Regions from separate parts of the Homo sapiens genome. Here region 2 is linked to region 1. Evidence: fine-mapped expression QTL. A gene starts in region 1. The other region holds a variant in brackets. All regions are shown on one strand. Distances are from middle to middle.

The links. PIP is the estimated chance that this variant, and not a neighbour inherited with it, causes the effect.
Region 2: its variant is fine-mapped to the expression of FXYD1 in whole blood (TOPMed, PIP above 0.99).

What each region holds. Positions count from the first base shown.
Region 1 is chr19:35,134,367-35,144,838 of GRCh38, reverse strand. FXYD1 (FXYD domain containing ion transport regulator 1) reads right to left here and starts at 6,015. Exons shown (of 8, transcript NM_021902.4): 1 at 5,945-6,015; 2 at 4,699-4,763; 3 at 4,210-4,242; 4 at 3,633-3,707; 5 at 3,267-3,303; 6 at 2,318-2,367; 7 at 2,068-2,119; 8 at 1,730-1,922. The coding sequence starts at 4,759. The coding sequence ends at 2,097. It overlaps LGI4 (leucine rich repeat LGI family member 4), which reads left to right and starts at 9,780. Exons shown (of 9, transcript NM_139284.3): 1 at 9,780-10,328. The coding sequence starts at 10,159. It overlaps FXYD7 (FXYD domain containing ion transport regulator 7), which reads right to left and starts at 1,584. Exons shown (of 6, transcript NM_022006.2): 1 at 1,475-1,584. The coding sequence starts at 1,505. RefSeq lists enhancers at 801-1,362, 1,363-1,923, 3,047-3,609 and silencers at 3,244-3,463, 3,574-3,703.
Region 2 is chr19:35,173,557-35,184,028 of GRCh38, reverse strand. No RefSeq gene overlaps it. Among named protein-coding and RNA genes, the nearest start is that of FXYD5, 24 kb to the right of the region's middle. RefSeq lists a silencer at 8,022-8,178. The variant C/T (reference allele first, on the strand shown) is at 5,861.

The DNA.
Region 1 (10,472 bases):
GCTGTGACTGGGAAAGGGGGAGGCAGAGGAGGTTGGGTTGAGGAGTCTGTCCTCCCACCTCTGCCCGTCTGCTGCCATCGATCCTGCTAACCACCACCTCTGCAAAAAGAAGCCCTGGGCTCCCGCCAGGCCTGCTGCCTCAGCCCTGCCCCCCTCCCTAGGGTAGCTTCCAGCCTCTGCAGCCCCCCCCACCCCCCGCCCTGCTTCGGATTCTGCAGATATGGCTCAGTGCAGCAGCCCCCGCCTGCTGGGAAGCGCGGAAGGGAGGGAGCCATCCAAGTGGAATTCGGGTTCCCTTCACTGCCAGGGGCTTCTCAGCACCCCTGGTCCCCTGCCCTCAGTGCTGGAGACCCTTGCTGGGCACTGGCTCCCTCTTGAAGCAGTCTGTGCCTTGCTCATCTGCAGAAGCAGGATTAGCAGTGGGGGCTATTAGGGGGCGACGGTAGAAGTGGGTGTTTAAGTGGGTGCATAACTGGGTTAATTGGTGTGGAATGGAAATCAGTGTGTGGCTGGATGGGGGCAGTAGGGGCAGCTAGGTGTATACCCAACAGCACCTCTGGGATTGGAAAACACCCCTGCTGTGGGCTGGAAGGAGGGTCCCATCGCCCCATTCCCACACATAGGGTCTCACTGCAGTGGTTTGGGCCCCACCCCACATGGCTCCCTTCTTCTCTTTCTACTCCCCTCTCTCCCCATGGGTCCGTCTCTCTCCCTCCGTCTCTCTGCTTCTCTCTCCATAGCGGTCTCAATCCCACTATCTCCCAGGCTCTCATTTTTTTTTCTCTCTCTCTCTGCATCTCTGTCTACTGCTCTCAGCCTCTCCCCTCCACTGGGAATCTCTCTGAGTCCATCTATTTGTCTTCCTGGGTCTTTGTATCTGTGACTCTGGATCTCCTGCCTCTCTTGGTCTCTGTCTCTTCCAGGTTCTCCCTGTCTGTCTCTTGCTATATCCCTTCTCTCTGTCTCTTCCTTCAGCTCTCACTCCTTTCCTCTGAACCTGGCTGTCAAGGGTTTCAGGAAACAGACACCCTAGGAGACAGCACTGGAAAGAAGAGGGACATGAACCTCCTCCCCTTCCCTTGCCCACCCCAGGGACCCTGAAATCTTCCAGAACGTCTCTGGTCGCAGACCCACCCGCTCCCACCCTGCAAGCTCATCTCTTCCCCGTCTGCTACCACCACGGTGCGGGACCAGCCACCCGGTTGCCATAGCGACCTGTCCGAGCATCCCTTCTCCCGGGACTGCCACTCTCCAACCGCAGGTCTGGCACAGGACGCCTGCCGGGGAGGGGGTGTCCCAGAGACCCGGAGGGGCGATCGGGGGGGCGCATTACAGGGGCTTCCGCCCACAGGAGGAGCGGACCTCCCTCCCCCAACTCCCTTGCCTTACCATTGCTTGAATCTCCCGACACCCTCTCTCCTAGGCTCTCAGATCCCGGAGCCCCCCTGCAACCCCCTCCCCAAACGACGCTCACCCTTTGTGGGGGTCTGGGTCGGGGTCGCCATGCTGGGCCGGAGCAGGGGGCTGCTGGATGCTTTGGCGGCGAAGGCGCGCTGCAGCAGCTGGAAGCAGGACGGACCGATGTGGGGGGGAGCTGGGGGGAGCCCTGGCGTGGGGGGGCCTGCAGCCAATGGGGGCCCGGGGAGCCCGCCCCCGTGCAGGCCACCCCCGCCCCCGCCCCCGCCCACCACCGTCGTCCCCGCCCCTTCCTCTAGGGTGGGGCGCCCCCTGCTGGGGCCCAGTGGCGCTGGCGTTTCGCGCTGAGGGACCGAGACCGACAAAGTGCTGTCGAGAGGAACGCACGTTTTATTGGAAGTCTTGGCGGCAGGGGGAGTCTGCGGGGGCAGGGCTGGGGAAGGGGCGGCGGAGGGGGCGGTGGGCGCGCAGGTGGAGCGTGGGAGATGTCAGGTGCCAGGGGAGTCCTGTGAGGGTGAAAAGGGTGAGAGGCGAGGGGGGACGTCCAGCCCCACCCCTCGCCGCCCTTCAACTCTGGCACTTGGCCCCCTCCCTCTCCCGCCTTTCCTTCCTCCCTCCTTCCCTCCCACCGCCGTGTCAGAGCTGCAGCACCTGGCCGGATTCCATCGCTCCAGGTGTTTCTACCGCCTGCGGGTGGACAGACCTGGGGGGAACACGGAGATCGGGGGTCATTCTGGAGAGGCATCCCCAGCTCCTGGGCAGGTGGGGCCCGCGGCGGGGCAACTCCCCGCCCTCCGCTTTCAGATCCAGCCCTTCCCTCTACGCAGCCAGGGAGGGCCGGGAAAAGCGGTCCTTGGAACCAGCCCTCTCCCCAGAATACCCGCAGTCTCCCCAGACTCACGGCGGATGGAGCTGCGGAAAGTTCCCTCCTCTTCATCGGGTTCCCCAGTCCTGGGAAGACAGAGGCAGAGGGATTTCGGGATGGAAAGGGGGAGAGGCTGCCCTTCTAGGAACCCCCCAGTACAAGCCTCCTTTCCCAGATTGGTGTAACTAGGCCCAGATATGGACGAAGAGCAGGCTCGGGGTCCGCCAGAAATGAGGAGCACCCAGGAGCAGCTTATGTGCTGGCAGGGGGCTTCTAAGCTGGTTAACAGTGAGTACCTCCGCGGATTTGGGGGCAGGGATGTGAAGTTGGTGGGGGAGGGATAGTCATGGGGACTTGGCAGACTGCCATGAGATGGCCTGGGTTGGAAACCCAGAACCCCCCATCTTCCACTTGAGTGATCTTGAACAAAGTGACTTTACCTCCCTGTGCCTTAGTTTCCTCATCTGTCAAATGGGGTTAATAACAGCACCTCCCTCCCAGAGGAAGTGAAACCGTATCTAACACGTGGTACACACCCAGTAAATATTAGCTACTACTTATGATAATATCTATAATTGTTCTAACATATTCATACATTGTCCATGCTTTAACATTTTATTCGAAGAGGAATCAAAGAGCTAGGAACAAGACTCTAAGCTAAACTGGGCCGCGTGTGAGATGATCTCATTTCACCGCCGTTTCTTCTTTCCTGCACTTTGTGTTATCACGCTTTGTGATTTTTCTATCTGTGGGGCTGTTGGAACCCACGGCCACCGCCTCCACTAGGCTGGGAGCTCGGCCAGGAAGGGCGGGAGGTTTTTTCCTCGCTTGGTCCCAGGGCCAGGCTTGGGCCATGGCACATAGTAGGTGCTTAATACATAGTCGCTGACGGGGATCGGGCTGCGGGTCAGGGGTACTCCCCGCCTCACCCGCGGCGCCCTCCAGAGCAGGAGCGGGCGAAGGAGGGCGGGGAGGGGCGTCTTACCTCTGCTGCTGGTTGAACTTGCACCGGCATCTTCTGCCTGTGGGCGTGGAGAGGTAGGAGAAGCTGAGGCTCCCTCCCGGCGGGCGCCAAGCGGCGCTGTAGCTCCAGCTCGCCCTCGCGAGGGGCGGGGCTTGGGGGACGGGGCGGGGCTAGAGGCGAGACCGGGGGCCGGGGAACCAAGGCAGGGTAGGCGGGGCAAGGCCTGGGAGGGGTTGGGGCGGGGCGGGGCCAGGGAGGGGCGGGACCAGGGAGAAGCGGGGCCAGGGAGAGGGGGGCTAGGGAGAGGCGGGGCCAGGGAGAGGCGGGGCCAGAGAGAGGTGGGGCCAGGGAGAGGCGGGGTAGAGGGCGGGAGCTAGGGGCACTCACTCAGCACGATGAGGATGCCCAGGATGAAGAGGATCCCGGCGATGACGAGGCCTCCGATCTGCAGGGACTGGTAGTCTGTGAGCAGCAGAGCAGGGAAGGTGAGGGCAGGGAAGACAGGAGGGAGAATAGGAGAGGGGTAAATTGGGAAGGAGGGAACAGGGAGAAAGGACCAGCAGGCAGAAGGGGGGAAGTAAGATAATTAAGGGGGAGCAGATATGGGAGGAGGAAAGTGGGGTACCAGGGAGAGGAAAGGGGTGTATAGGAAAGGGAGGGAGGGGACAGGGAGGAGGAGGACAGGGGGGAGAGAAGACGGGAAGAAGCAGAGGATGGGCCACGAGATGCTGAGACAGACGCAGGCAAGAGAAAGAGAACCAGAGAGGTATCACATAGACAGTGACACAGATAGACACAGACAGGAAAAGATGCAGACAGGTGGAATCAGAGAGGAAGGACAAAATAGAGGGAAGGAGAATGACAGAGATATCAATACTGGGACTCTGGGGGAGGGCGAGGGGGAATCAAAGGACCAGCAAAGCCAGGCTCTCCCCCAGGACTCAAAATTAGACCCCCCGCTCACCGTAAGTGAACGGGTCGTGTTCCTTTGGACTTTCTGGAAAGAGAGAGAAATCAGGGGTTGAATGCTTCCTGGGGTCCTGGCAGGGAGGGGCATGAGGAGACCACTGGAGGCTCTGCCTTGCTGGGCTTAGAGTCTGAGGGTGTCTGGGCAGGCTGCCCACACTCTCTGGGTCCCAGCTGCCCCCTCTGCACTGTCCCAGATGGGGCAGGTGGCACCTAACTGCCCCAGCTCCCTGACTCACGGCAGGCTGTCTGTGACCCAGTTATCCCATCGGGGATTCAGCCCCATCCCACCCCATCTTTGCCTGATCTGGGGCTTCCTCTCCCCTCCCCCAAATACCAGCCTGTGACTGGACCCCACGTGGAGACCCCCAAACTTCTTGGTACCCCAGCCGACTTAGTCTAGGTTGGGGTCTCCAACTTGGTTCTTCGGTCCCCACCGCCACCCCTGGGGCTGAGGTGGGTAGCGGGCAGCCTCCCCTGCACTCACCTGCCTTGGCCATGGTGAGGAGACCCACACAGAAAACCAAGATGTGGCCAAGAGACGCCATTGTCCTGGGGGGGACACCACGGATTAGGCAGTGTGTGCCCTTGCTCTCCCACATAGGGCTTGAACCCAAGGGATTAAGTCAGAGACAGTCTGGGGACTGAATCACAGAAGTGTTTGTCCTCTATCTTGGTGGCTCCAAGCTAGAGAAACGGGTATCCCCAGCTTCGTGGGGACACAGTGTCACCAAAACAACCTCCACGATGGGATCACACAACAACACAACGTAGCAGGGACGGGGGTGAGACACACAGTCCCCGGGGGGCCTCCCTTGGGCCTCCACCTCCCGCAGCAGGCCCCCGATTCCCAGACCTACCCTGGCAGGGCAGAGGAGGCGCTGCCTCACACAAACACAGAGCAGGAGACAGCAGGGCACGCCCAAGTCCCACCTGCCTACATGCCCGGCCTCACTGTGCCCCGCGAAATCCCAGCTCCCTGCCCTCTCCGCCCGCCCGCTCGCGGCCTGACCCCGGGTATAAATATCTCCCACTTCACCCTGGAGGAATTCTGCTCGCTCAGGCCACCATGGCAACAGCCTGCCTTCCCCCACTCAGGGGGTCACGCACAGCCCTGCCGGGGTGAGGCCCAGCTGCCACATCGCCACAGGCTGCCCCTGTGGGAAAGGTCACCCCGTCTCCTCCCTGGGCAGCAACGAGAAAAGGAAAAGACAGCCCCTCTGCCCGCCTCTGGGTGACATCTTTCACAATCGGATGTCAGGCAAGTGACATGAGGCCCAGCCCAGTGGGCCTTAGAGATAGAAAACACATGCTGGGGCAGGGATACACACACACACACACACACACACACACACACACACACACAGTGGGGCCGGAATGGACATGAACAACAACCTCTCCCCAAACTGCTGGTTGGAGCAGGACGTGGGGTGTAAACACCGTCAGGCATCCAATACTCCTCCTCTGGGCCTCCGGTGCCCCCACGCAGTGACGCAACCAGCCCTACACACGTGTGTGTCCCAACTCCACACCCTGCCAGGGTGCACACGCACCAGCAGGGCAGGGAGGAGTCACCCACATCCCACCCTGCAGAACCCACTGCCTCAACCACACTCCCTCCCTCTTGGGTTGGCCTGCCTGGGAAGCCTCGGGCTGGCCACTCCTGCTCCCAAAATAGGCGGCCCAGCCAGACCAGGGGTGAGGCCTGGAGGGAAGGAGTGGGGGACGCTCACCCCAATCGGGCTGTCCCCTGCTGAAAGAAGGCCCCCAAACGTCCTGCTGTGCCCCGGGGGCTGAGCACTTTGGACCCCCTGGCCCAGAGCTGGACGCGCCGCCCCCAGCAGCCTCCCCTCCCAGCCCCACCCCACCCATGCCCTCCCCAACCAGCAGCTGAAACTGGAGCTGGGGCTGGAGGGGGGCCAGGGGGCGGCCCCCAGCCCAGACTGCCCTGGCCCGCTTGGTTAACTCTCTCAGTTCAGAGAGAGCAGCAGCAGGCAGCCAGCAGGCAGGCTGGAGAGGCTAGGAGGATTGTGGAGGACAGGGTTGTGAACACACACACACACAAACACACACGCCTCCAAGAGCTTTTGGGCTGAGGCGGCTGCCCCCTGGGAACTGGGTCCAGCCAGGGCCGAAGGTCACCCAGCCTGACTGCCCAGGAGCCCACTGACCCCCGATCCCAGTGCTCCGTGAGGTCCTTAACAGGGCTGTTTTAGAGGACGGGAGGGAGGTGTGTGTGTGTGTGTGTGTGTGCGCGCGCATGTGCGCTATCTGCTGTGGTGAGATCCCCAGAAATGCACCACACACACACACCCACACACAATCCCAAAGACCCAGATATACAGGTACAAAACCAGACAAAACCATGTATGTATGTACATCCATAGAAGCAGACACACACAGAATGACACACTGATAGAGAAACCCAAAGACCCGGACACACAGCCAACACCTTTTATGCCAGTCACAAAATACCAGAACAAGCACATTTATGTCTACACAGACCCACGCACGCTCATGTAGATGGATGGCCACACAGAGATACAGTCAAAGACATAGCCACATCACCATCTACACTCACAAACTGGCCACAAAAATGCATGTTTATGTGAAGACCCACCCACAAATGGCCATACAGAAACACACAAGTATGTGCACACCGCACATAAATGCATTCTAAGATGCATGGCCAAACATGGCCAGGTACGGTGGCTCACACCTGTACTCCCAGCACTTTGGGAGGCCAAGGCGGGAGGATCACTTGAGGCCAGGAGTTCAACACCAGCCTGGCCAACCCGACGAGAGCTCGTCTCTACTAAAAAAATATACAAAAATTAGCTGGGTGTGGTGGCGTGCGCCTGTAATCACGGCTACTCCGGAGGCTGAGGCAGGAGAGTCACTTGAGCCCGGGAGGCAGAGCTTGCAGTGAGCTGAGATCATGCCACTGCACTCTAGCCTGGGCAACAGAGCGAGACTCTGTCTCAAAAACAAAAACAAAACAAAAAAACCCCAAAGGTACAGACATGCAGCCAGCACTCCTACATGGTCCCAAAGATAGGAAGGCCAACAAGCTTGTGTACACACAGACAGATTTCCATGGGCACAGATACACAAGCAGAAACACCATCAAGGACAACCCGCCGCTCTCACACATACCCACAAAAGCAGAAACACACACACTGGTTCACACCCTATGCTTGAGCAAACAGGCACATGGTTGGCCACGGTGACAGATGCGCAGGCTGACACACTTGCATGTTCACACATTCCAAAACCACAGATATGTATTTAACCCCACACTTTCCTTCCCCTGAGCTCTTGTCGGGGACAACACACCTGGCGTCCCCATGGGCAGGCCAGGTTTACAGGTCCTGGTGACAGGGAAACCTGGAATGGCCCAGGCACTGCACTCCTGGTTGTGTGAACTTGAGCAGCTCTGTGCCTCATTTTCACATGCTCCAAAATGGAAAAATCACTAAGATCACGTGTATAATCCTGGACAGGGCTCAGAGGTCTCTGAACTTGACATTGTCTTATGATTAACTTCATTTTTTGTTTGTTTGTTTGAGACCGGGTCTTGCTCTGTCACCCAGGCTGAAGTGCAATGGCACAATCATAGCTCACTGTAGCCTCAACCTCATGGGCTCAAGTGATTCTCCCACCTCAGCTTCCTGAGTAGCTGGGACTATGGGCGTGCGACACCATGCCTGGCTAATTTTTTAATTTTTTGTACAGTCGGGGTTTCTCTATGTTGCCCAGGCTTGTCTTGAACTCCTGGCCCCAAGCGATCCTCCCACTTCAGCCTGCCAAAATGTGGGATTACAGAAATGAGCCACCGTGCCTGGCCTATTATTATTGTCCTTGTCATCCTCCTCCTTGTGAACTGGACTGCTGGGCTGGGCACCCTATGAGAGTGGGTTCAGATCCCTCTGTGCCCCTGGCACTCAGCTCTCCAACTTCACTTTCAGGGACCCTGTTTATCATACCCAATAGTCAGTGAAGGAAACTGAGAGCTGACGGGCATGGCTCAAACCACAAGCTGCTGGGGTCTGCTCCTCTAGGAGCTGGATCCGGAGCCCACCCCCAAGCTTGCCGACCACTGTGGGATGCCCACCTTGTGCTGAACCCCAAAAGGATGAGTTGCCTCCATCACCTGAGTCCTCTCCACAACTGGGAAGCGGGTGCCACGATTGTCCCCGTTTGACAGATGGGAAAACTGAGGCCACACAGGACTGGGCCTGGAACCCAGATCTGCATGACCTCCAAGCTGTTAAGCCCCCTTATCCTCCAACGAGGCTTCTGGGCGTGGGCGTCAGTGTCAAGAGAGGCTGCATGCATTCCTCAATCACAGGATGAGTCTCGTCCCCAGGCGATGAGGTGGTACAGCCTAGGGGTTAGGTTTAGAGCTGACTAGAGCCAGGAAACTAATCACATAACTTCCCTGTGCCTCAGTTTCCCCATCTGTAAAGCAGGGATAGCAGTACTGCCCATCTCACAGGGTGGCTGTGAAGGCTGAGTGAGTATAAACATTACTACTATTTCATCTTAGCTAACAAGTGTCATTTACTTATGTTTCTTATTTAGTGGACAGAATCTATCCAAATGACTAAAATTTAGTCCAGATTAAAACAACCAATTATCCATCTATCCATGAACTCTGATCTCCAAAGAAAGAATGCAAAATAACCTGGAGCCGGATGCCTGGGTTTGAATCCCGGCTGTGCCCTCAGCTGGGTAACCTAGAGTTCAGGTTCCCTGACCTCTGTCTCCACTTCCTCCAGCTGTAAAGTGGTGATGATGACAGCACTAACTTCAGAGGGCTTTGGCAAGATCAGAATGAGTTAATAGATGAGCTTTTAGGACAAGGCCAGGCTCAGAGTAGACGCTGAAGAAGGGGTGGCATCATCATCATCATCTTCACCATCATCATCATCTTCATCATCATCATGTCCTCGGGTTGGTGCTGTCCCCCAGTGGGTGTTGGCCACTAGAGGGTTAATTTCAGGGTAGGGGAGGGAGGCTAAGGGCTTGGGGCCGGGCAGAGGTCCTGCCGAGTATGACCACCAGAGGGAGCAGCTGGACGTGATCTGGCCCCACTGACAGCGCCCAACACACCCTCCTGTAGCCAGGGGAGGGGGCTGGCAGAGAGTGGCCAGGACGGGATGTCCCCAGCCCCCCCAGGGCCTCTCCTCCCACCCTGCTCCAGAATGCAGAGCCATCTGGTCCCCACCCTGGTGACATCGTCCTCCTGCTCCCCCAATAGGGTTGAGTGGGGAATCTGGGGAGGGGGCTGGCGGGAGTGGTGGGGCGGCTCCAGCCCTTGGTGGCCCCTCCCCCTCCTGTGGGGCTGTCCAGTCCCTTCCCCCAAGGCCGACCTTCTCATGGCCTCTGACCCCCTCCTCCTTCCCATCCTACTCTGCCGGGTGTGCCGGGTGTCCAGCGAACCCCTTTCCCAAACCTTCGGGGAGAAGGGAGGTGGGAGGAGGCAAAGAAACTACAGGCAGGGAGCTGGAAGGGGGGGTGGGGGGGGCAGGAGACAAGAAATCAAGACACCAGGCAGCAGGACACACACACACTCACATACACTCACACACATAGAGACCAACAGATAGACAGCTACCTAAAGCCTGAAAGACTGACAGCAACACAGAAAAAAAGAAACAGGCAGAAAGAGAGACAAAGACAGAAATAGAAACAGACTAACACACAGAGTCAAAAATACAGAGACAGAAAGACAGGGAGAAAGAGAAACAGAAAATTAGACACCAAAGACATACGAACAGGGAGGAAGGCCGACTGAAAGAAAGACGGAGAAGAGGAGAGAGAAGCCAGGGCCGAGCGTGCCAGCAGGCGGATGGAGGGCGGCCTGGTGGAGGAGGAGACGTAGTGGCCTGGGCTGAGCTGGGTGGGCCGGGAGAAGCGGGTGCCTCAGAGTGGGGGTGGGGGCATGGGAGGGGCAGGCATTCTGCTGCTGCTGCTGGCTGGGGCGGGGGTGGTGGTGGCCTGGAGACCCCCAAAGGGAAAGTGTCCCCTGCGCTGCTCCTGCTCTAAAGACAGCGCCCTGTGTGAGGGCTCCCCGGACCTGCCCGTCAGCTTCTCTCCGACCCTGCTGTCACTGTGAGTGTCCAGCCTTCTGCATGCCCGAAGGTGGGGACGGAAGTCCTGGGACCCCAGAGGTTGGGATGTGGTGCCGGGTCTCCAGGGAAACAGGGGCCCATCAGGATCTCAGGAGATGGGCAGCAAAGCCTGTCGGGATGCCTT
Region 2 (10,472 bases), 39 kb before region 1:
CTCTCAATTATATTTTAAATTTCATTTATTGGCCGGGATCGGTGGCTCACGCCTGTAATTCTAGCACTTTGGGAGGCTGAGGTGGGCAGATCACCAGGTCAGGAGTTCGAGACCAGCCTGGCCAACATGGCGAAACCCCGTCTCTACTAAAAATACAAAAATTAGCTGGGCATGGTGGCAGGGGCCTGTAATCCCAGCTACTCAGTAGGTTGGGGCAGAAGAATTGCTTGAACCTGGGAGGCAGAGGTTGCAGTGAGCCAAGATCATGCCATTGCACTCCAGCCTGGGTGACAAGAGCAAGACTCTGTTTCAAAAAAAAAAAAAAAAAAATCATTTATTAAGTCTTCAGCTCCAAAATTTATGTGTTTTTTTTTATGATATCCATCTCTTTACTGATTTTTTTTCATTCTGATCATGAACTGTTTTCCTGATTTTTTTGGGCGGGGGATGTTGTCTCACTCTGTTGCCCAGGCTGGAGTACGGTGGCACGACCTTGGCTCACTGCAACCTCCGCCTCCAGGGTTCAAACGATTCTTCTGCCTCAGCCTCCCAAGTAGCTGGGACTATAGGCATGCACCATCATGCCTGGCTAGTTTTTGTATTTTTAGTAGAGACATGGTTTTGCCATGTTGGCCAGGATGCTCTCAAATTCCTGACTTCAGGTGATCCACCCACCTCGGCCTCCCGAAGTGCTGGGATTACAGGCGTGAGCCACCGCGCCCAGCCCTGTTTTCCTGATTTTGTTGAATTGTCTATTTGTATTCTCTTGTATCCCATCAAATTTCCTTATGATCACTTGAATTCTTTTTTGGGAATTGCACAGATGTTCTTTTCTTTGGGGTCTATTATTGGAGGATTATTGTGTTCCTTTAGAGGTGTCATGTTTTCTTGCTTTTTCATGTTTCTTGTGTTCCTACACATCTGGTATAATAGCTACCTCTTCCAATTTGATGGAGTAACTTTCATAAGTAAAGACTTTTTCCTGTATATGTACCCTATAGTGTCGGTTGTGTAGGATGCTTTGGCTGTGGTTCTAGATAAACACAGTAGTATGATCTCCATGTGATTTCTTTGGCTGTAATTAATGTCAGCAGTGTCTGTGAATACTTCAGTGGCCTAATATTCAGGTGTTTAAGGAGGCAGTGGTGTGGCTTTGCTGGAGGAAGGAGCTGGGTGAACCCTAGGGAAGTGTGCACTGGGCATGGTGGCTCTGCTAGTTGTGAGGCAGCATTGCCATCACTGTTGGGCACCAGGCAGGCAAGTCCTTGGTCCCTGAGGGATTTGCACATTGGTTCCCCATGTTTTGGGGGCTGCCACCCTGCTGTGATAGATTGCCTGTTCCCTGGGGTGTGGGGCACTGTATGAGTTCAAATGCTGGGGTCATAGCTGTACTTCTGGATCTAACTGGTGTTGTGGCATTGCACCCTTTTGTGTAGACATGGTGGAATAACAGAAGGACCCCAGGGATGTGGAGATGCAGGAGCTATTGGCATCCAAGGCAGAATGCCCTCTAGCAGTGGGCTCTGTTCTCAAAATAGCCCTGTGTGGTAGCAGCCTGGGTCTTTGGGAGTGGGGCCTCAGTGTGAGTCCTTTCTCTGGGGCAGTGTAGCCATGTGGATTCTAGGCAGCTCCCTAGACTGGGCTTCAGGCCTGTGAGGACCGTGAGGCCCTCTTATAGCTAGGATTGCTGCAAGGACTGCAGGGCACCCCCCACTTACCTTTTACCTGCAATGGGGAGTCCTCTTGGCTCTGCACCAATACTGCTCAGGTGCTTTGCTTCCCTGTCTATGCTGCCATCACAATATTCTGGGGTTTTGTCACTTCTTTGCTGAATTCCAGTGTTTTCTCTTAGACACTCTACGCAGCTGAGTGTTGGGCACTTCTGGTCAGCCATCTTAATGACCTCCACTAGAGTTTCTGACCTACAAAGAAGAGCCACCACAGAGCTCTTCAAGGATGCTAGGACTCTCCTTCACAAATTTATTTCTGATAGCTAGGATGAAAGTCGTGTCCCCTTGGCACTGTCAATGTGTATAGATGAGCAAATCTTACATGATAAAGCCACTCCAGCATTCCAATCTCTCTGAGCCTTTGGCCACCTTTCACTACAGCAGGAATCGTCAAATGACAGTCCATGGGTCAAATCTAATTCCTGGGCTGTTTTCGTGTGGCCCACAAAATAGAATTGGTTTTTACATTTTTTTAGTTGAAATAAAATCAAAAGAAAAATAATATTTGTGACACATGAAAATGATACAAATTCAAATTTCAGTGTTTATAAATAAACTTATATTGGAGCACAGCCATGCTCAGTTACTTACAAATTGTCCTTGATGGCTTTATTGCTACAATGGGAGAGCTGAAGAGTGAAAAACTGAGACTGGCCTGTAAAACCTAAAACATTTACTCTATGGCTTTTTACAGAAAAAAAAATATGCTGATTCATGCTCTTTAGTACACCCAAGGAAATTCTGGCATTTTCAACCTATTATAGGCCCAGGTACGGGTCCATATATCAATCAGCCAACCAAGCAAACTGTCAGAACCATTCCTAGCCCCTCAAGCTCAAACATTACATCTCTGCTTGGTGGGCCAATGTAAATACATTTGACTTGATCCAACTATATTGTCTTCCACCTTGATTCCACACCCTTAAGATCCATTTCTGCACATATTCCCCAGTTCTCTGTTGATATAAATTGACAATTATTTGGGTGTGTGTTGCACCCCCTCATGGGTCACATTTTATACCTCACCTTTCACATTCTCTTGAGCCTTGAGTCTAGTCATAGGTCTTAGAAGTAAGAAGTGATAGGAATAGGTCCTGAGGAGCATAGATGCCTTGCCTTATGGAAGGCCATTACAATTTCTTCAGGGAAGAGGAGACTCACTTCTGCAGGCAAGAGTGAAAGGGCTGCCTCTGCAGGCAAAGAGATTTGGCAGAATTTAGGGGTCTTAAAGTCCTCAGCTTCACTGGAATCTGCTCATATGTCTCCATCCCAATTTTCAGGATCCCATTCCTCCCCAATCAAAGCCCTAACTTTAACAAAAAAGACCCTGTGAGGTTAGAAGTTCAACTTTTGTTGGATTAGACTTTAGCTTTGGTTTTCAGAAATCTCAGCCCTATGACTATGGGAAATACAAGTTTCTTTCAGGGCCACCACTCACAGAAGCTTTCAAGTCCCTTATACAGAACCAGAGCTGGGAAGGTAAAGTTCTGAGTGCCATCATTCCACCTCAGCTCCAAGTTTTCCAGCACAGTCAGCAGCAATGAGCCAACCCCATTACACTTCTTATTTTCACTAAACTGTTCTGTGGAAGCAAATACTCAGTCACCCAGAGCCTTTCCTTCTATAGAAACCTAATATAGGAAGCTACTGGTGATGGTCTGAGTGACTGCCTTGCCACTCCATGCTATGACCTATCAGTGTACCCTTCATTACTGAAAACAAGGTCATTAATGGCTTTCAATTTAATTAGAGAACCAATTCTAGAAAAACCAGATCTCGGCCGGGCGCGGTGGCTCACGCCTGTAATCCCAGCACTTTGGAAGGCCGAGGCAGGTGGATCACAAGGTCAAGAGATTGAGACCATCTTGGCTAATACGGTGAAACCCCGTCTCTACTAAAAGTACAATAAAATTAGCTGGGCGTTGTGGCAGGCGCCTGTAGTCCCAGCTGCTGGGGAGGCTGAGGCAGGAGAATGGCGTGAACCCGGGAGGCGGAACTTGCAGTAAACCAAGATCACGCCACCACACTCCAGCCTGGGTGACAGAGTGAGACTCCATCTCAAAAAAAAAAAAAAAAGAGAAAGAAAAACCAGATCTCATTGTTAAGATTCTGGCCTTCTGGAACCACTCTTAGTACCAAATTCTGTATCAGCAAAGCTGAACCTTTAATACATATGTGGGCGTACACACACACAGTTTGCTACACGAATTTGACCTTCAACAATTGTAGTTGCTAGTGAAGCTCTCTTTGTAGGGCTGTTGTCTTGATGCTGGAACTTGAAACCCACAGGTGCAGGAAGTCAGGAAGGGAAGATTGAGGTAAGATTGGGGAGAGCACGGAACAAGTTAGAACCCACAAGCACAAGCTGGAGTCCACAAGGATGGACTGAATCCTATGTTAATTCTTTTTCTTTTTCTTTTCTCTTCTTTTTTTTCTTTCTTTCTTTCTTTTTGTTTTTCTTTTTGAGACAGAGTTTCACTCGGTCGACCAGGCTGGAGTGCAGTGGTGTGATCTCTGCTCACTGCAACCTCTGCTTCCCAGGTTGAAGAGATTCTCTTGCCTCAGCCTCCCGAGTAGCTGGGATTGCAGGCATGCAACATCACGCCTGGGTAATTTTTGTATTTTTAGTAAAGATGGAGTTTCACCATGTTGACCAGGCTGGTCTCGAACTCCTGACCTCAAGTGATCCACCCGCCTCGGCCTCCCAGAGTGCTGGAATTACAGGCATGAGCCACTGCACCCAGCCCCATGCTAATTCTTGTTGTCTATGACCTTGGTGCTGTGGGTGTCTTGCTAGAGTCATGGTCCTTCATCACGGGGCTGAGCACACATGTCTGGCCCAACAACTGGGGAAGCTGAAGGAGGATCCAGCGGAAGGTGAAACAGTTGCAGCCCTGGTTGCTGCCTTATGCCAATGAGATGAGCTGTCTGATAAGTGACAACTGGTATAAGCTGCGAAATGTCCGTGGCTTCACCTCTACCCAGCAGATCCCTGACAAGAATGTCTCTTGTGGTTCACCCTAACCAGAAAACACAGGCATCTAGGGAAAAAGATTCTGGGAAGTGTAGTTTAACCTGGCCAAGGTGATACATTACAAAGCCACCTCAGGCGATGTTTCAAACCCTGTTTAACCTCCCACCATCAGCAGCTGGAGTCCTTGACTCAATAACTTCTTGAGAAGCCAACAGACTTTACCGAAGCAATCATTGGAGGTCATCCTCAACACCTCCAAGAAAAGCACAATCTAGTGTCAGATGAGAAAAGGCAGATTCCTTCCAGTTAATGTGATCTGGCCTCAATTTCAAAACAAGAACCTTGACAGAATTGTACTCAGGAGGCTAGCTGAATTACAACATCCACTCCATTAGCTCCTGGCAAGATATCTCCCCTGATGTAAGGGTGGAGGAGGAGGAGGCTTCACTTCAGACCATGATGCCACAGAAAAAGATGTCTTTTGCCAGAAAGGGATTGGGTAGCATTGGAGAGCATTGGAGGCGCTGTTGAAGTGATGTCTGGAAGTCTCTATCAAGTCTGAGAATCAGTGCTGCTGTCCTCTGGAAGTTTCAAAAACGACCAGTTTTTTTTTTTTTTTTGAGATGACGTCTCACTCTTGTCACCCAGGCTGGAGTGCAATGGTGCAATCTTGGCTCACTGCAACCTCCGCCTCCTAGGTTCAAGTGATTCTCTTGCCTCAGCCTCCCGAGTAGCTGGGATTACAGGCATGTGTCACATGCCTGGCTAATTTTTGTATTTTTAGTAGAGATGGGATTTCACCCTGTTGGCCAGGCTGGTTTCGAACTCCTGACCTCAGGTGATCCACCTGCCTTGGCCTCCCAAAGTGTTGAGATTACAGGTGTGAGCCACTGTGCCTGGCCAACCCCCAGTCTTAACAGTTATCTTTTCCTTTTACATTGGAGTAAAAATGACTTGAGGCTCCATCTCCTGACTTGGTGGCAGCTCCCCATCCTTCTCAGCATCCTAATCAACAAATTCCTGAGGGCAATTATTTTCCTTGATGGTATTTGGGGTGTCACGGACTCAGCTAAAAGACCACATTTCTGTGTCCTTTGCAATTAGAGGTAGCAATCCGAAGGAAGTAGAAATCTTTGGGAGGGAGTCTTGGGAAGTC[C/T]CTTTAAAAGGAGCTGAATCACCTAGTGGTGCCTTTCCTTTCTCACTTTTTTTTCCCCTTCTTGATTTTTTTCCTGGAATGTGGCATGATGGCTGAGGCTTCTGCAGCTATTTTGTGATCTTGAGGCTTCAGGCCACATGCTTAGGGTGGCAGAGCAGCAAGTCTGGTCCCTTATGATATTAGGGATCCTCTTTCCCAGCCTTGCACTATGTACTTCAGAGTTCTGCTATGTGAGAGAGGAATAAATAACCTGTTTAAGTCGTTGTTTCTGGCTGTCTCCTGAAGCTGAATACAGTTTCTGCCTCTAGAACTCTTGCTATGTGAGATAATAAATGTCCTTTGCAGTAAACAATATTACTGCCCATCAATACCCAGTTCCCTTCTGATGTGGTTTGGCTGTGCCCCCACCCAAATCTTATCTTGAATTTTCACATATTGTGGGAGGGGCCCAGTGGAAGGTGGTTGAATCATAAGGGCAGGTCTTTCTCTTGCTGGTCTTGTGATGGTGAATGAGTCTCATGAGGTCTGAGGGTTTTAAAAAGGGGAGTTTCCCTGCACAAGCTCTCTTCTCTTGTCTGCCACCATGTGAGACGTGCCTTTCACCTTCTGCCATGATTGAGGCCTCCCCAGCCACGTGGAACTGTAAATCCAATAAAGTTCTTTCTTTTGTAAGTTTCCCAATCTCAGATATGTCTTTATCAGCAGCATGAAAACGGATTAATATACCTTCCTATAAGAAGATTGTAATGTTCTGTGCTGTTGAACTCAAATGTGCCCGTGTGATTTGCTTTCGATAATGACAATGTGAGCAGAAATGAGGTGTGTCCCTTCCTGACAGAGGCTATAAGAGCCAGTGTGTGTCTCACCTTGTTCCTTGTTCTGCCTTCTGCCTGCTATGATAACCAGAAACATTTCTTTTCTTTTATTTTCTTTTCTTTTAGACAGGGTCTCACTCTGGAGTGCAGTGGCGTGATCTCAGCTCACTGCAACCTCCATCTCTTGGGCTCAAGCGATCCCCCCACCTCACCCCTCAAATAGCTGGGACCACAGGCGCAAGCCACCATGCCCAGCTTATTTTTATTTAGTTTTTGAGACGGAGTGTCACTCTGTCACTCTGTCACCCAGGCTGGAGTGCAGTGGCTTGATCTCGGCTCACTGCAACCTCCGCCTCTCAGGTTCAAGTGATTCTCCTGCCTCAGCCTCCTGAGTAGCTGGGATTACAGGCATGCACCGCCATGCCTGGCTAATCTTTCTATTTTTAGTAGAGATGGGGTTTTGACATGTTGGCCAGGCTGGTCTCAAACTCCTGACCTCAGGTAATCCGCCTGCCTCGGCCTCCCAAAGTGCTGGGATTACAGGTGTAAGCCACTGCACTTGGCCTAATTTTTGTATTTTTTGTAGAGACAAGGTTTCACCATATTGGCCAGGTTGGTCTCAAACTCCTGAGATCAAGCGATCTGCCTGCCTCGGCCTCCCAAAGTGCTGGGATTACAGGTGTGAGCCACTGCGCCCAGCCCAGGCTTCCCCATCATCTTGGGTCCCATCCTAGCTCCTAGCTGAACCGTGAGGGACATGTAGTGAGAGCGAGAAACAAACCTTTGTTGTAAGCCACGAGATTTTGAGATTATTTGTGACTGTCAATTTTAAGCAAAATTGGTCTGGCTTGGCATAAGGAATTAGAGGTTGACAAGCTCTTTGGAAAGGCTGGTGGAGTGCGCTCTAAGTGAAGACTGCAAATGATTCCACAACATGAGCAGACTGACTTGCCCAAGGAGCTTCTCCCTCCACCCTAATCAGGAGCCCCCATTGTACACGTCAGCTTCAGCATCTGGCTGCTCTGTCTGAGATCCAGGGATCAGAAAATCATCACCACCCAGGACAGAACTGCCTATTTGTTTTCAATGTTCTTGTTTTGTATTGAGTTATAATTTACTGTGTTAGTTCATTTTGCATTGCCATAAAAGAATACTTGAGACAGTAATTTATAAGGAAAAGAGAATTCTTTGGCTCATGGTTCTTCAGGCTGTACAAGCACAGCACCAGCATCTGCTTGGCTTTTGGTGAAGAGACCTCAGGAATCTTTTACTCATAGCAGGAAGTGAAGGGATAGCAGGCGTGTCCCATGGCAAGAGCAGGAGTAAGACAGAGAGAGGGGGAGGTGCCAGGCTCTTTAAGCAACCAGCTGTCACGTGAGCTAAGAGGGCAAGAACTCACGCATGACCATGGGGAGGACACCAAGCCATTCATGAGGGATCAACCCCCATGACCCAATCACCTCCCACCAGGCCCCCCTCCATCATCGGGGATCACATTTCAACATGAGATTTGGAGGGGTCACACATCCAAATATCACTTACACATAGTAAAGTGTACAAATCTTTTTTTTTTTTTTCCTTTGAGACAGGGTCTTGCTCCATCACCCAGGCTGGAGTCCAGTGGCGCGATCTCGGCTCACTGCAACCTCCGCCTCCCACGTTCAGGCGACTCTCCTGCTTCAGCCTTCTGAGGAGCTGGGATTACAGGCATGCACCACCATGCCTGGCTAATTTTTGTATTTTTAGTAGAGACGGGGTTTCACCATGTTGGCCAGGCTGGTCTCGAACTCCAACCTCAAGTGATCCACCTGCCTTGGCCTCTCAAAGTGTTGTGATTACAGGCATGAGCCACGGCACCGAGCCCTCAAAACTTAAACGTACAATTTGATCATTCTGATCAATATATGGACATGTAATCTGCACCACTGTCATCAGGGCACAGAACATTTCAATCCTTCCAGAAAGTTCTTTCATGCCCCTTTGCAGTCTCTCCCCACCTCCTGCTGACATAGTAGAGGCCACTACTCTTCTGATTTTTATCACTGTTAATCAGTTTTGCATATTTCAGAACTTCATATAAATGGAATTACACAGTCTGTGCTCTTTCGTGTGTGGTTTCTTTCACTCAAGACAATGCTTTTGAGATTCATTCATGTGTTGTGTAGCTCAGTCTTTCTTCCTTCCACAGTTTGTAGTCCACTCACTTGTGCTGATGGACATTGGGGTTGTTTCTAGTCTTTTTACTATTACAGATATTGCTGTAAACATTTGTGTGTGGGTCTTTGTGTGGACATGTGGTTTGACTTCTCTTGGATAAATACTTAAGAGTTGAATAGCTGGGTCATAGGTTAAGTGCACATTTACCTTTTTAAGAAACTGCCAATTTTCTTTTCTTTTCTTTTTTTTTTTTTTGAGACCGAGTCTCGTTCTGTTGCCTAGGCTGGAGTACAGTGGTCTGATCTCGGCTCACTGCAACCTCTGTCTCCTGGGTTCAAGTGATTTTCCTGCCTCAGCCCCCCGGGTAGCTGGGATTACAAGCACCCACCACCACATCCAGCTAATTTTTGTATTTTTAGTAGAGACGGGGCTTCACCATGTTGGCCAGGCTGGTCTCGAACTCCTGACCTCAGATGGTCTTCAGCCTCCCAAAGTGCTGGGATTACAGGTGTGAGCCACCGTGGCCAGCCTAGAAACTGCCAGTTTTCTAAAGTGATTGTATCCCTTTCTGGTCCAGCTACGAATGGAAATTCCACTTGTTCCACATCCTCTTCCCACTTGGAAGTGTCTGTCTTTTTAATTTTAGCCATCCTAGTGGGTGTGTGGTGGTATCTCATTGTGATTTTCATTTATTTTTACTGATGACTGTTGATATTGAACATCTTTTCATGTGCTTATTGGCCATTTAGATTTCCCTTTCCCTTCCTTCCTTCCTTCGTTCCTTCCTTCGTTCCTTCCTTCCTTCCTTCCTTTCTTCTTTCTCTCTTTCTCTCTCTCTCTTTCTTTCTTTCAAAATGGAGTCTCTCTCTGTTGCCCAGGCTGGAGTACAATGGCGCAATCTCTGCTCACTGAAACCTCCGCCTCCCAGGCTCAAGCGATTCTCCTGCCTCAGCCTCCTGAGCAGCTGGGACTACACCACGCCTGGCTAATTTTTGTATTTTAGCAGAGATAGAGTTTTGCCATGTTGGCCTGGCTGGTCTCAAACTCCTGACCTCAGGTGATCCGCCTGCCTTGGCCTGCCAAAGTACTGAGAATACAAGCATAAGCCACCACGCCTGGCCAATTTAGATATTCTTTTATGAGCATAACTGCCTTTTAGTACCTACGAGGCTAGTGACTGGACACTGGAATGGTACAGCCAAAAAAACTCAACACTTTCACCATCCTATGAGCTCACAGCAAACAGCAAATGGCACAGAAAGATGGTCTCTTTTGGTCTTCCAAGTCTTCTGCGAGGGCCTCTAATTCGCAGAGCTGAATCCACACCCAAAACCACATCTTTGAGCGCATCTGGGAAACATAGTATTGGCGTTTTCATCCCGACCCCATGGAAGATAGAATGAGTGGCGAGAGAACACCGAGGGCCAACCCCACTCATCCCCCCTTGAGTTAGTACCGCCTCTATTCTGCGCAAGGAAGCTGTCAGGTATTCTCCTGAACTGACGTGGTAGCACACAACATGGCTTTAGGCCCCAAACAAGGTAAAATCATGTTGAGTCACATGGTCAGAAAGTAAATCACCTTTGAATATCTCTTATGTTTTGTTTGTTTGTTTTTGAGATGGAGTCTCACTCTGTCAC